Linked DNA regions of Homo sapiens: region 1 is linked to region 2. Evidence: fine-mapped expression QTL. A gene starts in region 2. The other region holds a variant in brackets. All regions are shown on one strand. Distances are between the middles of the regions. Region 1 overlaps MYO5A (myosin VA). Region 2 holds the start of ARPP19 (cAMP regulated phosphoprotein 19).

The links. PIP is the estimated chance that this variant, and not a neighbour inherited with it, causes the effect.
Region 1: its variant is the best candidate, but not a certain one, in a credible set for the expression of ARPP19 in lymphoblastoid cells (GEUVADIS, PIP 0.81).

What each region holds. Positions count from the first base shown.
Region 1 is chr15:52,505,466-52,510,841 of GRCh38, forward strand. All of the region lies in intron 1 of MYO5A (myosin VA), which reads right to left. It also overlaps the pseudogene EEF1B2P1. Among named protein-coding and RNA genes, the nearest start is that of MYO5A, 21 kb to the right of the region's middle. The variant C/T (reference allele first, on the strand shown) is at 3,152.
Region 2 is chr15:52,566,965-52,572,340 of GRCh38, forward strand. ARPP19 (cAMP regulated phosphoprotein 19) reads right to left here and starts at 2,066. Exons shown (of 3, transcript NM_006628.6): 1 at 1,884-2,066. The coding sequence starts at 1,928. RefSeq lists enhancers at 917-1,665, 1,666-2,412, 2,466-2,595 and silencers at 1,766-1,865, 1,936-1,995.

The sequences.
Region 1 (5,376 bases), 61 kb before region 2:
CAGATAGTAAAGATGATGATGACATTGATCTCTCTGGATCTGATGATGAGGAAGAAAGTGAAGAAGCAAAGAGGCTAAGGGAAGAACGTCTTGCACAATATGAATCAAAGAAAGCCAAAAAACCTGCACTTGTTTCCAAGTCTTCCATCTTATTAGATGTGAAATCTTGGGATGATGAGACAGATATGGCGAAATTAGAGGGCGTCAGAAGCATTCAAGCAGACGTCTTAGTCTGGGACTCATCTAAACTAGTTCCAGTGGGATACAGAATTAAGAAACTTCAAATACAGTGTGTAGTTGAGGATGATAAAGTTGGAACAGATATGCTGGAGGAGCAGATCACTGCGTTTGAGGACTATGTGCAGCCCATGGATGTGGCTGCTTTCAACAAGATCTAAAATCCATCCTGGATCATGGCATTTAAATAAAAGCTTGAAAGATTAAAAAAAAAATTTTTCAGACTCTTGGCTGGGCGCAGTGGCTCATACCTGTAATCCCATCACTTTGGGAGGCTGAGGAGGGCAGATATCTTGAGGTCAGGAGTTCGAGACCAGCCTGGCCAATATGGCAAAACCCTCTCTCTACTAAAAAAATATGAAAATTAGGCCGGGCGCTGTGGCTCATGCCTGTAATCCCAGCACTTTAGGAGGCCGAGGCAGGCAGATCACGAGGTCAGGAGATCGAGACCATCTTGGCTAACGCAGTGAAACCCCGTCTCTACTAAAAATACAAAAAATTAGCCGGGCATGGTGGCAGGCACCTGTAGTCCCACCTACTTGGGAGGCTGAGGCAGGAGAATGACGTGAACCCGGGAGGCTGAGCTTGCAGTAAGCCAAGACTGCGCCGCTGCACTCCAGCCTGGGTGACAGAGCGAGACTCTGTCTCAAAAAAATAATAATAATAAAATGAAAATTAGCTGGGCGTGGTGGCACACACCTGTAATCCCAGCTACTCAGGTGGCTGAGGCGTGGGAATCACTTGAACCTGGGAAGTGGAGGTTACAGTTAGCCGAGATCGCGCCATTGTACTCCAGCCTGGGCAACAGAGTGAGACCCTTTCTCAAAAAAAAAAAAAAAAAATTCAGTCCCTTGGCCAGATGCAGTGGCTCATGCTTGTAATCCAGCAATTTGGGAGGACAAGGAGGGCGGATCTCTTGAGGTCAGGAGTTCAACACCAGCCTGGCCAACATGGTGAAACCCTGACTCTACTAAAAATACAAAATTAGCCGGCGTGGTTGCCTGCACCTGTAATCCCAGATACACAGGTGGCTGAGGTGTGACAATCACTTGAACCCGAGAGGGGGAGGTGGCAGTGAGCCGAGATTGTGCCACTGCACTCCAGCCTGGGCTATAGAATGAAACGCTGTCTCAAAATAAAAAAAAGAATTCAGATTCTGTCTTTCTGCTCTACCTTCTTAGCTTGTTAACTTTTCATTCTGAGGCTTGTCACCTTATGATTACAATTTGGCTGCCAAAGACTCCATATATCACATTACATACTTAAGGATGGAAGAAAGAGAGTATATATACAAACAAATGTTTCTATTCCTTTTATGAGAGAAGCTACTTTTTTTTCCCCCTGTAGAGGTCTTCCAGAAGATTTCTGGTTATATCACATTAGCCAGAACTAAATCACACAGCTGGCCCTAACTGCAAGGGAAGTTAGAAAAAGGCATATTTGTCTTCGAACCTCTATAACAGAAGGAGAAATGGGTTTGGAACTGACTTTAGGATTCAAGCAACAGTTTATGACACATGTCTATATTACACATAAAATGCTAATTATGCTAGTTAATTACAACTGGGTGCAGTACCTTTAAAAGCCCTCGTTTAGAATACAGTTCTCCTTTCCAGCAGAAAACTGGTTAAGAATGTTGATGATGGAAACATTAAAAAGGGACTGGAATGAAAGTTACAGCTTTGTCAGATGGTGCTGACATTGCTGAGTTGTAGACAGATTACAATCGAAAGAGTATCCATAGCCAAATCCTAACTAGAATGAAGGGAAAATTTTAATAGTGTACATAGCTGATGTCCTAAAACGTTCCAGAAGCTTTAAGAGTGTGATAAGGGCCTGGTACAGGGACTCACACCTGTAATCCCAGCACTTTGGGAGGCCAAGGCAGGAGGATCACTTTAGCCTAGGAGCAGACCAGCCTGAGCAACATGGCAAAACCCCAACTCTACAAAAAAATACAAAAATCAGCAGGGCATAGTGGCATGCACCTGTAGTCCCAGCCGAAGTGGGAGGATCACTTGAGCCTGAGAGGTCGAGGCTGCAGTGAGCCATGATCCCACCACTACACTCTAGCCTGAGCAACAGAATGAGACCCTGTCCCCAAAAAAAAAAAAAAAAAGTGTAATAACTAGAGATCTATCTAGGGCTACCACTTTTTTAAAATAAGAAAATAGATTTTTATAAATTATTTAAAATAGACAAGCCAATAATGCTACCTAAGAGTTAACATTAAGGGACTCTATTATGATATGCCAAGTACTGGGCTTTACATATATATGTATGTATCTAATCTCTCAACTGCCCTATCAGGAAAGTACATTCACTAACTTGCTTATGGTCACACAAGGAGAAGCTCAACCTAACTCTAGAGATGATGCCCTTAACCATATTACGTTACTGTTTGTTATTTTATTTGTTCTCCTTGGTGTTTCTTATTCATTTTATGTATTTGTTATTTAATCATTCAAATTTGTAAAGTTTAACTCTTGTTTATAAATTGTAAATTGTCTTTCTCTATTTTCTTTTCATAGTATTTCTGGTTCACACAAGTCCTAAAATGGCAAAGCTGTTTCAATCATATCTTTCAAAAACTTAGAATCAGATAATCCAAGTGGATTTTGTAGCTAGTTTTATGAAAACTTTGATAAAATTACAACAAACATTGTTAGGGTTTTATAAGGAAAAAAAAAAAAAGTAGAACTAACCTGACAAAACAAACCACCAAAAAAGGCATCACAACACACAATGTACAAACAACAAAAGTAGAAACATAAATATACATCTATATTAGTCCTATGTGTTCTAAATCCCTCCTTTGTTTCATCTACTGTGAGTTTGCTACCTCCATAGCACACTGGCCAAGATTACTTGTAGGCATACCATTGGTTCCCTGAATTATTGGGCTATTATTCCC[C/T]GCCTCACCCCCACCCCCTGCCAAAACATTAACCCTGTTTACTCCACACATAGCTGGTAACACACATGTGGTTAATTATACCCAAATCTCTAGTCTCAAACTACTGTACTTAGCTTTTTATTTTAGGTTTTTATGCTTCCCTTTTTCTTTTACTGTCTTTTTCTTTACCTCTTTATTATTATGTTCCCAGAAATTTAGCTCCTGAACATACATAAGATCCTTGCATATTTTCAACAATACAATGAAATCCGTACCTTCTTATCTACCAAAAAAAACGTAAGCCGTATGTTATACGTTATTTTCTCCTATTCTCTTCTCATGTGTTATTAAAATTGGAAGTGGATTCAACTTTTTTTGTAATTTTTTTTTTTTTGAGACAGAGTCTTGCTCTATCACCCAGGCTGGAGTGCAATGGTTTGATCGTGGCTCACTGCAGCCTCAACCTCTCGGGCTCAAGTGATCTTCCTACCTCAGCCTCCTGAGTAACTGGGACTATGGGCATGTGCCACCACACCCAGCTAATATTTTAATTTTTTGTAGAGACGGAGTCTCACCATGTTGCCCTGGCTTGGATTGAACTCCTGGGCTCAAGCAATCCACTTGCTTCAGCCTCCCAAAGTGTTGGGATTACAGGCATTAGACCTAGCACCTGGCCAGATTAAACTCTTTTTTAGTTTACTCAAAGGCAGCATCCTCATATTGGGTTGGAAAACCAAGATGATCACATATAAGAAAGGATCTTCCTACTTGTCTCTCTACCTGTTTTTCCCAACTCTGGCTAATCTCTGTTTAATAATGCATCTTTCTTTAACTATTTGGAAGAAAAACAAAAACAAAAAAACTCCATGACAGCATGATCAGCTGACAGACAGCATGATTAATGAAGAAAACAGTGATGGGAACATATAAGCCTCTTCTCTCCCTCCAATAACCTGGCAGACAACCCCACCTGGGATTTGTCCCATACTTGTAACACACAAATGTTTGCTTGCTAGGTCAACTGTATTTAAACTAAAATATGACAGCTGTAAATAAGCCAATAAAATAGGGGCCATTTTTAGATTCTGACAAGCCAAAGATCAGGCACTGCTCTCTTGAAAACTGTCACCAAAGGCAAAGAGAGAGCAGCCTCAAGAGGAAATAAGAGAAAATCACTACATGGCCTGAATGATTCACGTTGAAATCAGAGGCATCAGATGAGGACTTAAGATGGATCAATAGCTTAAAAAGGTCTCAAGTGAACAATCTGTGCCATTCTCCTTCTCTAATCTCTTGGAGAAAAAAAAAAAGAGCACAAAAAAGCTCTAAGGTCTTTTAATGAGACTATTATTCCATTAATTATTTGAGGCAGTTTTTGTTTCACTAGAATTAATTAACATAACCCTTCTACTTTCAGCTCCAGCTGCATCTGATGTCACTGCTATGGCAGTGAAGAATGAAAACCAAAGGACAACTGGCTACTTAAGGAATTAAGCGGACTAAAATGAAAACCATTCACAGAAGCAGTTCCAGTACTCTGGCTGAGACTCTGTTTTCCTACATACAGCCCACACATTCTGAATATACTCAAATCTACGCAATTTCAAACTTAGAAAACTTTAACTGCTGCCCCACTGAAGCCATTTTCAAGCTGGAATCATGTATAATAAACTACTCCATCTATTTCACCAATATATACATTTTAAAATAATTAATTTAGCCTCTACTCATTCAGATCTATTAAATTTCACCACTATGACAGTTATCTTAGAAAATCCTCTTAAACATAGCCAACAGATAAATCAAATAAGAATTTTTGGAAATCTTTAACCTTAAGGACAATATTAAGAATCTAGGTCAAGGGTCCCCCATCCCCGGGCTATGGACCAGTACCAGTCCCTGGCCTGTTAGGAACCGGGCCTCACAGCAGGAGGTGAGTGGTGAGCTAGCGAGCAATACCACCTGAGCTCCGTCTCCTGTCAGATCAGCAGTGGCATTAGATTCTCATAGGAGCATGAACCCTATTATGAACTGCACAGGCGAAGGATCTAGGTTGCATGCTTCTCATGAGAATCTAACTAATGCCTGATTATCTAAGGTGAAACAGTTTCACCCCAAAACCAACCATCACCATCGCCACACCTGCTCCCCAGGTCTGTGGAAAAACTGTCTTCCATGAAACTGGTCCCTGGGGCCAAAAAGGTTGGGGACCGCTGACCTAAGTCTAATGTATAGAATGGCACAGA
Region 2 (5,376 bases):
TAAAGGTATTTTTAGCTGAATACTTTGGCTTTAAGTGGAAGGTCAATTGGGTACACAGACAATAACTTAATTTTTTAGGTCATCGAACTGATCTTCCAAATAGAAGAAACAGGTGATTTGGCCCACAGGAACACAGAAGTGACTGTGCACATTTTCTTCATGGTTAGGGACACCATCCACGCCACAGGCACTTAGCATTTACAGCCAATCCTCAATTTAAGAAGGAACATTATATTCCTAACACACTTTGGTTGATTTTAATGACAGCAGCTAAAACCAAAGCACCTTAAATGTTTAATGTAGACAATCAATAAGAGAAAACGTTCAAGCTATCCTTAATATTGTTAAAAGATACATTAGGCTTTTCCAAGTAAAAGTATTTACACTCTAGAAGTCAATACTGCATACTTTGGCAACATACTAACAGAACTTATCAAAGAAAATTACATAGCACACTACTGTGCACCAGAAGTTAATGCTAAGTTTGATGTAAGTGTTTAAGGCAAACCACCACAGACAGGGACTTGTTATTTTTGGGGGCTCCTAAATTTCAAGCAATAATGAACACAATACGCATTTTACAATAAGCAGGTGATACTTAATAATACTGTTAAGATTGCAAACTTTAATATTTGTATTTTTGCCCCCAAAATCCATTTTTTTGGTAATGCGTAAATATATCTATTTTCACGGGATATTCTCAAATAATGTGGTAACTTGGACTTTTACCTATGCTATATGTTTTCTTGTTTTTCAATTACTTTAACATCCTAACAGAAGCACCCAACTTAAGAAAAGTTAACACGGTTTTAAGAACATATGGAATGGGCTTAGAACACTAATCCAATTCCCAACTTAATTAGGACATAAGTGCAACATTAAGCAGAAACCCGCACGAAGGTCAAGCAGTAGACCAAAATCGTATTTAACGGCAACACAACCTGATTTGTAAGAAAAATTGTTGATAAACAATTTAGGAGACAAGATACCTCGGCCCTTTCTCACTTCTCGGCCAGTCACACCTGCCTAGGAGGGCAGGGCGGTGGAAATAATTACAGTGGGAGAGACAAACACCAGCCTAGATAAATACAAAGGCTTGATATTCATAATTTGAACCACAGTGACACTCCCGGCCTATTCCCCTACATCAGGAAGACACAAGGGCGTTTACAAAATATTCCTGTTTCCAATAAAACCCTGATTAATTTCGTGAGTAAAATTTTAAAATTCCACCCTTTCGATTTTTAGTCAAGTACCATATTTGAGTCCCATCGACTGAAACCTTTTTGAGCACAGACTGCGCTGCACACTACACCTGACTCACCTCCTCTAGGCCTCACCCCGCCGTGGGAGGCAAGCACCAGTATTCGGCCTTTACAGGTGAAGACACTGAAGGCCGGACTTTACTCACTGACCATGGTTACAAGGGTTGGCCCTGAAATGCCAATCCTGGCCCACATCGCGGCCCGCACACGAGGCACTGCTTTTGGAGTGAACCGCACGCTCACAATACAAGTAGTTGGAGAGTTCTTCAAAGGAAAAAATAAAACTTCCTAACCAAATTGAGGCTTACAGAAAAACTTAGGCTCTACGCCCAAAGCCTGCGTCCTGGGCTCTCGCGTAAATATAAGTGACTGAGGAACACCGCGACCCACGGAGGTGTTACAAAAGGCACGATTCGGAGTAAACGCGGGGCACGTTGGAACTCCCAATTCGTCGGCGCACCAGCCAGCGACGGCGGGAAGCCAAAGGTGGGGCGCAGGAGCCTCGGCCTCATGCGCCTCGGCCCCGCATCTCGGGCGCGGCCCTCCGCCTGGCGGGAGCAGGCCGCCCGCCAGACCCGGCCTTGGGCAGGGCCCAGGGCTCACGCCCCGCGCGCTCACCTTCTGCTCCTCCGCGGAGGCTGCCTCGGGGACTTCCGCAGACATAGTGCTCCCTCTGCAGACGAGACGCCGGGAAAAGATGCAATTAGCGGGTGGCCGAGGCCACCCGGCCGCCGCCCGTCCCAGCTCTCCCAGGGCCCGCCGGGCCGCCTCCGCCCGCGAAAATGGCCGCCGCCTTATGACGACACGGAGCCGCGAAACGCTCCGCTGGCCAAGGCCCTCGCACGCCGGAGCCCGCCTGCCCCTCCCGCACCGCACCCCTACCTACTTGACCCCGCTTCTCCCGCTCGCTGTCGTCCAAACACTTCCTTTTTTCCTTCAAAGGTCGCCGCTCCTGCCTCACCTCACATCCGTTTGTGGCTGCCGAGTGCTTCCTGGGAATTGTAGTTTCTAAGTGGAACCGCCCCTCCCCGCCCTTTCCTGTCCACTCTGGTCCCCTCGTTCTAGGAGCTTTATTTTACTCTTTCCACTTACCCATCCTCGCCTAGTTCTGTTCTCCTCGCTCTCCGCTCTGTAGCCACACAGGCTGTCTTTTGGGCACGCCAAAAGTCTTGCTCCACTCTGCCACGCCTTCACATCTCCAGTCCTACGTCTCTGCCTCAGAACCTTTCCTTCCTAAACCTCTACACTAGGCCAGAGCCACCTCTTAAAGGCTGTCACAGCCCTGTACAGTTCCTCAACAACATGAACTGTATCATTACACAATTGTCGTGACTTTAGGTCACCTTTCCTTCTCAGATAAGCCGCACCAGGGCAGGGATCTCGTCTGTAATTACTTATATTTTACTCTGAGGGTCCAGCACTTCCTAGATATCTAACGAAGGAATTCAGATTCATTTGTCCACTCCCAGGGGGTCCACTCCCACAAGCTTACCGAAACTGCTAGCATTGAGCTCCCCCAATGACCTTTTTATTTGCCAAGTCCTGCGGCTTCTTACTGAATCCTCATTCTACTTGATATCTGAATAGTTACTCGCAATGTTTGTTGGTTCCAACAAAGTGTCCCTCAGAAACTTGGAAATAAGATTGCCCTCTAAAAGTTAAACTAGTAAAAAGCCACAGAAAATGAATGCATTTCTGGGGGCAGGGGAACAATTGAAAGACCCTAAATGCCTGGATAAGGAATTTGGAAACCATCGAAACTCAACCAGGATGTAGAATCTCAGACAGGAAGAATTGCACTGGAATTGCAACTAGAAAAACAAAAAGAGTTAATATTGCACTCCTTTTGGAGAAACGAAGGAAGGCATTTGTCAGCCAAGGAAGTATTGAAAATAAAAGGGTTCAACAGGCCAACTGTTTGACAAAGATATCCCTTAAGAATGTCTCACGCTGGGCTAGCTGAGAAACTGTAAGATCCACGACATATTTGTTCTCCTTCTATACTCACAAAGTAACATACTGAAAATTTGCCTTTCCCTTAAGCAGAACTGCAGAGAGAAAGAAGAGTGCAGTAGTTAGGCCACTGAAGCATTTAACAGTTGTATTTTTATTAATAAATTGACTGACGTTCTAGTATATGTCCTATATCAATGTATTTGTGAACTTGAGTTAAAATCTGATAGACATACACTTAATGATGAAACTCAGCCTCAAGAAAATTGGCTGTGGCTGGGCACAGTGGCTCACTCGTAATCCCAGCACTTTGGGAGGCCAAGGCGGGCAAATCGCTCGAGCTCAGGAGTTCAAGACCAGCCTGGCCAACATGGCAAATCTCTGTCTCTACAAAAAGAAAAAAAACTTTTTTTTCTTTTTCTTTTTGAGACAGAGTCTCAACTCTGTCACCCAGGCTGGAGTGCAATGGCACAATCTCGGCTCACTGCAACCTCCACTTCCTGGGTTCAAGCAATTCTCCTGCCTCTGCCTCCCAAGTAGCTGGGATTACAGTTGCCCACCACCACACCCTGATAATTTTTTGTATTTTTAGTAGAGACAGGGTTTTGCCGTGTTGTCCAGGCTGGTCTCGAACTCCCGGCCTCAAGTGATCCACCCGCCTCGGCCTCCCAAAGTGCTGGGATTATAGGAGCGAGCCACCACATCTGGCCTTTTTTTTAAAATTGGCTATGTGACCTTGGATAAAAAGAATCTGTTTCTGATAGTGACACTCGCAGAAGGGGAAGTTTGAATTTCTGGGGGCAGACTTTGGTCAAATGGAGAATTCACCATGGGCAATGCTCCACAATGAGGACCTGTCTGGAAAGCCATTCTTTCCCAACTAACACCACTCTGCATCATTATGAACCTTAATGTGTAAAACTGCACACTGGTCCCCAGCACCCTGTTTGTCAAAACTTCCTTCTCTTGATCTCCAGGATACTATTGTCTCATGGATTTCCTCCTACTTAACCTCCCTGTTGAATCTTAACCTGCCTCTTAATGGGAGGATTCTAACAGTTCTGTCCTTGGATCTCCTTCTCTTCTATGTTTACACAGCCTCCAGGAAATAACTTCCACCTTCATAGTTTTTTTTCTTTTTTGAAACAAAGTGTCACTCTGCCACCCAGGCTGGGGTGCAGTGGCACCATCTCAGCTCACTGCAATCTGCCTTCTAGGTTCAAGTGATTCTCCTGCCTCAGCTTCCCAAGTAGCTGGGACCACAGGCACATGCCACCATGCCCGGCTAATTTTTGTATTTTTAATAATTGTAGGCCTGGCACGGTGGCTCACACCTGTAATCCCAGCACTTTGGGAGGCCGAGGCGGGTGGATCACTTGAGGTCAGGAGTTCGAGACCAGCCTGGCCAACGTGGTAAAACCATCTCTACTAAAAATACAAAAATCAGCTGGGCATGGTGGTGGGCACCTGTAATCCCAGCTACTTGGGAGGCTGAGGCAGGAGAATTGCTCAAACCTAGGAGATGGAGGTTGTAGTGAGCTGAGATCATATCACTGCACTCCAGCCTGGGCAACAAGAGCAAAACTGTTTCAAATAATAATAATAATAATTTGTAAAGACGGGGTGTTGCTATGTTGGCCAGGCTGGTCTCAAACTCCTGGCCTCAAGTGCTCGGCCTGCCTCGGCCTCCCAAAGTGCTAGGATTACAGACTTGAGCCACTGCGCCCGGTGGACATTCATAGTCTAAACTGCCATCTAGGGATACCTTGTTTTTTGGGGCTTCATTTTATTGTACTTCTAGATACTGCATTTTTCACAAATTGAAGGTTTGTGGCAATCCTGCATCCAGCCTCTATAGGCGCCATTTCTCCAACACCATGTGCTTACTTTGTGATCGTGTGTAACATTTGGGTAATTCTTGCAATATTTCAAACGTTTTCATTATTATTATATCTATTATAGTGATCTGTAATCAGTTATCTTTGACATTACTATTGTAATTTTGGGGGAGTACCACAAACCACTCCCACATAAGACAGTGAACTTAACCAATAAATGTGTATGCTCTGACTGCTGTACCAACCAGCATTCCCCTGTCTCTCTCTCCTTGGGCTTCCCTATACCCTGAGACACAACGATATTGAAATTAGGCCAAATT